Linked DNA regions of Homo sapiens: region 2 is linked to region 1. The links come from fine-mapping of genetic effects on gene expression. Tissue or cell type: prefrontal cortex. Region 1 holds a variant in brackets; the other region holds the start of a gene. All regions are shown on one strand. Distances are between the middles of the regions.

What was found. PIP is the estimated chance that this variant, and not a neighbour inherited with it, causes the effect.
Region 2: PRSS56 starts here. The variant in region 1 is fine-mapped to the expression of PRSS56 in prefrontal cortex (ROSMAP, PIP 0.95).

Annotation. Positions count from the first base shown.
Region 1 is chr2:232,542,382-232,544,881 of GRCh38, reverse strand. It overlaps CHRNG (cholinergic receptor nicotinic gamma subunit), which reads right to left. Exons shown (of 12, transcript NM_005199.5): 6 at 2,362-2,459; 7 at 1,800-2,000; 8 at 1,493-1,607; 9 at 1,183-1,297; 10 at 302-515; 11 at 1-110. It overlaps TIGD1 (tigger transposable element derived 1), which reads left to right. Exons shown (of 1, transcript NM_145702.4): 1 at 1-999. Among named protein-coding and RNA genes, the nearest start is that of CHRNG, 3.9 kb to the right of the region's middle. The variant G/C (reference allele first, on the strand shown) is at 1,353.
Region 2 is chr2:232,519,164-232,521,785 of GRCh38, reverse strand. It overlaps PRSS56 (serine protease 56), which reads right to left and starts at 1,398. Exons shown (of 13, transcript NM_001195129.2): 1 at 1,091-1,398; 2 at 358-465. The coding sequence starts at 1,187.

The DNA of each region.
Region 1 (2,500 bases):
GTGCCGGGCACAGGCAATGAGGTTGCAGGCTTCCACACAGGCCTGGATGGCTGGGGCAGCCTGCTTCAGGCTGCCACAGAACTGGCTCAGCCCTAACTCCGGGCCTTTCTCTGATAAAGAGAAAGGGTAAGGTTTGGGAGTAGAATGGAGGAGAAACAGGCAGAGAAGATGGCCTCTCCTTAGGGACCCCAGCTCCTCTCTCCCTGACCTGGGCACTTCTCCAGCACTCATCTGCTGTGCCTGGCTCCCCAGCTGGGGTCCCAGGGGAGGACTGTCCCCAGGCACACCTGGTGTGTCTCACCTAGCTTCTCCAGCGCTGCCGCCACCAGCCCTTGCCGCTGCCACTGCTGGAAGAGGAGTTCACTGCGAGGCAGGCAGAGGGCCACCTCCTCCCCAGTTGTGATCGACCATCCCGAGGAGCCATTCTGTAGCCGGGACTGGGTGTCCTGCACAGCTGCCGGGGCCAGCGGGCGAACGTGCATCCTCAGCAGCTGGGGCAAGAGCCTCAGGAACACCTAGAGAGGGGGTGGCTTCACTAGGGCAGCAGGCCGAGCTTCAGAGCAGAAGCCAGAGGTTGGCGTGAAGGGCTTGTGCTGCTAGGGACCATGGAGGCAGCATACCGGGGCAGTGACGTGGCCTTGGTAAAGCTTTCTATACTGGACACGAGCCTGGGTCCCCAAACTTCAGTGCACATCAGAATCACCAGGGCACTTGTTATAAACACAGATTCCTGCCCCCAGCCCTCATGCTATTCTGGCCTAGAATGCCTGGGACAGGCCTGGGAATCTGCATGTGCAACAAGGGCCCAAGCTGAAGGCTGCAGGTGGGCTACAGATCACACAGACTGGAATCAGACTGCCCTGGCAGACTCCTGCTTTTTCGACTTTGTAGTGCACTTCCTTGGGCAGGTTACTTAACCTCTCTGCGCCTCAACGTCCTCATCTGTAATTGGAGGTGATATGGGTTTTATGAAGATGAAATACATTAACATTTGTAATATCCCGGGCACCTAGGAAGCAATTTCATTCCTGTATTACTGTAATCGATTTTGGTCCATGCGTCCAGATACGCCCAGGATGGGTGTGCTGTGGAATGCCACAGGTGAGTACTGCCGGGGCGTGCGAGAGGGAGGCGTAGGGGAGTGGGCAGCGGGATGTTGAAGTGGGCAGGGAGGGTCCTTGCCTTGCGGACCCCTCGGGCCATGGAGTGTGTGTGTGGAGACCGCAAGGAGACATTGAGCACAACCACAGCATTCACGACAATGAGGATGGTCACCACCAGGAGGAAGGTCAGGTACCTGTCAGGGTGGGGTGGGCAGGAGCTGGCAGCCCATACCATGATGCCACCCCCAC[G/C]CTTAGTGGCTGCCCCCCCTCAGGCCTCCTGAATTGAGGATGGGGGGGGTGGATGGAGGGCAAGAGGGCAATGCAGGAGGCCATCATGCTCCCAAGAAGGGAGAGTGGCATAGGCGGGTGGACATGAAGACCAGCCTTACTTGCTGATGAGTGGCACCGCCTGGGAGGTTTCAGGCACCTTCTTGGCCACAAGGAAGAGGAAGACAGTCTGGGCCAGGAGCACGTTGATGGCGACGGTACACTTCTGGCCCCCAGCTATCCATGACCGAGAGGCTCTCAGAGCAGGTTCCTACCTCCCCCACCCACAGAGGAACCCCTTACCCCAGAAGTAGCCCGCTGCCTCTGTCCTGGGTCGTAATGCCACTCTGTTCCCCAGGCAGGGCCCACCCCGGCCTCCCAGGTGTCCCCTGTGCTACTGGATGGCTCCTTCCCATAGGCTCCAGGTACCCTTGGCAGGAAGGAAGTGGATGAGGATGGCGACAGAGGAGATGAGCACACAGGGGGCGATGATGTTGATGACGTAGAAGAGGGGCTTGCGCTGGATGAGCAGGTAGAACACCACCTTCTGGTGGCCTGCTTCCTGGGCTGGCGCCGCTGGGTCCAGGAGCATCTTGGCTGGTCGGTGCTGGATGGCCCACTCCCCATTCTCTGCGGGCAGGCAGGCAGGCAGGAGTGGGCACAAGAAGCGTGAGCTAGGCAGATCCCTGCAGCCGAGTGACCCAGCTGCAAGGGCAGCATGTGCCCTAAGGAGCACCAGCAGGGGAGGCACCCTTGAGGGACAGAAGTGGGGTGGGAGATTGGATGCTCGAGCCTCTTCTAAAATTGGAGACATTATCATGAGGAAAGTCAGAGCTTTGTTGGACGTTTTAAAAAGCATATTTTATGGTTTGCTGTAGTTTTCATTTTGAGTTACATGGGAGGGATTTGACCTTGGTCCAGCCTTGACCACAGCTGGGTCCAGCAGGAGCCCTGGATGAGGCTGCCTGGGGAGCCCTTGGGTGGGGGTTACCTGTGAAGGCCTCAGGGTCAATGAAAATCCACTCGATGGTCTGGCCATCTTCCTGACTCAGCTGCAGATCAATCTCATTGGTGCTGTAAGTCTGGGACCTGGGAGTCACCGAGGAAAGAGGCTAAATGTGAGCGGGTGG
Region 2 (2,622 bases), 23 kb after region 1:
GCTGCCCTCTCGCCTGTCCTCACCCCAGGCTGGGCCGAGCCTCTCTCTCCCCATCTCTCCTTTCGCGCTCAGCCCTCCAGCCCACACGGGTTCTATTTCAGCAACCATGAACTTCTCCTGGTCACCACAGGAGCCCAGAGTGTTTCCGCCTCCCTGCCTTTGCACAGGCCATGCCCCAAGCCTAGCGTGTCCTTTCCACTCGGAGAGACAGACCTTCACAAACGTAGTCTAGGTTGCGGCCCAACACAGTCTCTGCCCCCAAGAGGAGAGTGAAGACTGAAGGGAAGGGACAGAGGCAGCAGAATGGGCCCAGGGTAGGCAGCAAGCTCACTGGGGCACGGGGGGCAGGGTGGGCACCTCGGCACTCGTGCGATCTGTGCTGGATCTCCATCGCCACTCGGTTTATTGCCCACTGGGCGCTCCTCTGGGCTGCCTGCAACGCCTGAGTCCCCTGGGCCGACAGAACTGCTGGGACAGGGGGCACACAATCATGCGTGGTTGGGGAAGAGCCTCAGCCTCATCCTCCTGGCCCCAGCCCTGAGCCCTGCCTCGGGAGACCCACCAGCCTGGGACAGAATGAGGAGGCAAGTGAGCCCCGGGGACGCTGGGCCCAGCACTCAGAGCCCGTGCTCCCAGGTTCTCAGCCCAAGATGTCTCCCTAATTCAACTGAGCTGGACTGGGATCTTTGAAAGGTGCTTTTCCTTAACAATTTTTTTTAAAGACACCACCCCAAAGATACAGACATCGCAGAACTCAGCTTTATTGACTGAAAGTAGCTGTGTTTGAGTGGCCCACCTTCGGCCGGGACAGCCAAGGGCAGGGTGCTGCCCCGGGCCGTTTCTCTCTGCTTCTTGGGGCCTTCTCTCCATTCCTTTCGGCATGCTCAACAGCTCCCCTTCCCTTTCCCGCCACACCCCTCCTCTCCCACCTATATCTCAGTTCTTGGCCCCTTCTCGCAGCAGGGTGGGCAGAAGGAGCCAAAGGTCCTTATGAGTGGGGGTGACAAGCTCTTCTGTCCCCGCCCGCCCAGGGTCCCACTTCCTCTACATTCCTCCCAACCCCGCGGCTCTCGGGCCAGCCTGGACTTACCTTGCAGGGCGCTGGGGGGCAGGCGTGTGTACAGTGGGTGCCCGTGGGCAAACCATGAGCTTGGGAGGGGTAGCAGCAGCAGCACAGCCAGCAGCATGGTGACCAGGAGCTGGGGTGAGAGACCCCTGTCCTCTCTCCTCCTCGGAGTCCACCTTCCGGGTGCCTATCCTTTGGTGCCCGCCTTCTGCTGCCTTTCGGCCCCCGGGCACTGAATTCTTGTCCCTCAAATCATCTGACCCCGTTCTCTTACATCAAAATTACCCGCCTCCCTGGTCAGCCCTCACCTGGCCCTTAACTCCTAGGAGCCCACAGGGGAATGGGGCTGCAGGGTCTTTATAGAGGACAGCCTGGGGGAGGGGTGCACGGGAGGGTGGCCAAGACTGGGGGAGGAGTGGGGTAGTGGGCTTGACCTTCACCTCTGAAGTCTCATCATCCCAGCTCCGAGCCCCCCTTCTGTCAAAGGAGCCCTTGTTTCTGCGGCTCCATCAAAGGGGCCAAGACAGGGAAGAAGGGCTGACGGTTGGGCTGCAGGCCAGGCAGAGGGGGGCTGCTGGGTGGGGGCGGGCCCTGGCTCCAGGGCTGGGATGGGGGGGGATCCCCATCTGCCTCTACCCCCTGAGGAGCTTACAGCTATGACGGGGCAGACACTCCTGGAGGGAGGAGGGCAGGGGGTGTCTGGGGTTTCTCAGCAGCCCCACCCCCTGAGGAAGCCCTGGAGCTCCCCACCCCTCTGCCCCTAATTGCTTGGCAGAGTCCCTCCCCAATGTGGCCATTTCTAAAGATGATCAAAGCAGCCTAATTAGCGCCGTAATTGCCGCACTGGGGGTGGTGGGGTGGGAAGGGGCAGAGGCAGGCAGCCGCAGGAGTGGCGCGGAAAGGGAGGCGGGAGATGAAAGGCCCACAGTGGCCCAGTTCCGGGAGGACAGGCCCTAGCAGCTTCTGACGCTCTCCCAGACCCCCTGGCCCTGCACAGTGCCCGCTCTGCCTGTCCGGCATTGTTCTGTGACCCTGATCTGGCAGTGGGATTCTTCTGGAGTCCTCTGGAGTCTCATGGGCAGGGCCACACAGCTCTCCTGGGACTGAGTTACCACCTGGGGTAGGATAGTGCCCGTCTGCGCTGCCCAGGCTCCCCAATTCATGTGAGGTGAACTGGTGGGAATATTTATCAGCAAATGCTATGACCCGGGGCTCTTTCCCCCTGGAGAGCCAGCTGTTCCACAGTGACCAGCACACCATGCTAAGGAGCCCTTTCCCCAGTTACCACCGCACCTCGCCATGACAATACCTCTACTTCAGGAATGCTCTGAAAATACTGTCTGCGGATGATTCTGGTGAGTGAATTTGGTGAAGTTGGAAAGGACTCTATTCACCAGAGTATCTGTCCATCTTGCAGGGTATCTTTTTATCCATGACCTCCACAATCTTGGTAGATAAGGCATTAGCTCAACACAGCTTGAATTTTAGCATAAACAGAGACAGTGTCCAAAGGAAGATCGCCTGCGGTTCCCAGTAAGAGCCACCAAAGCAGGGGA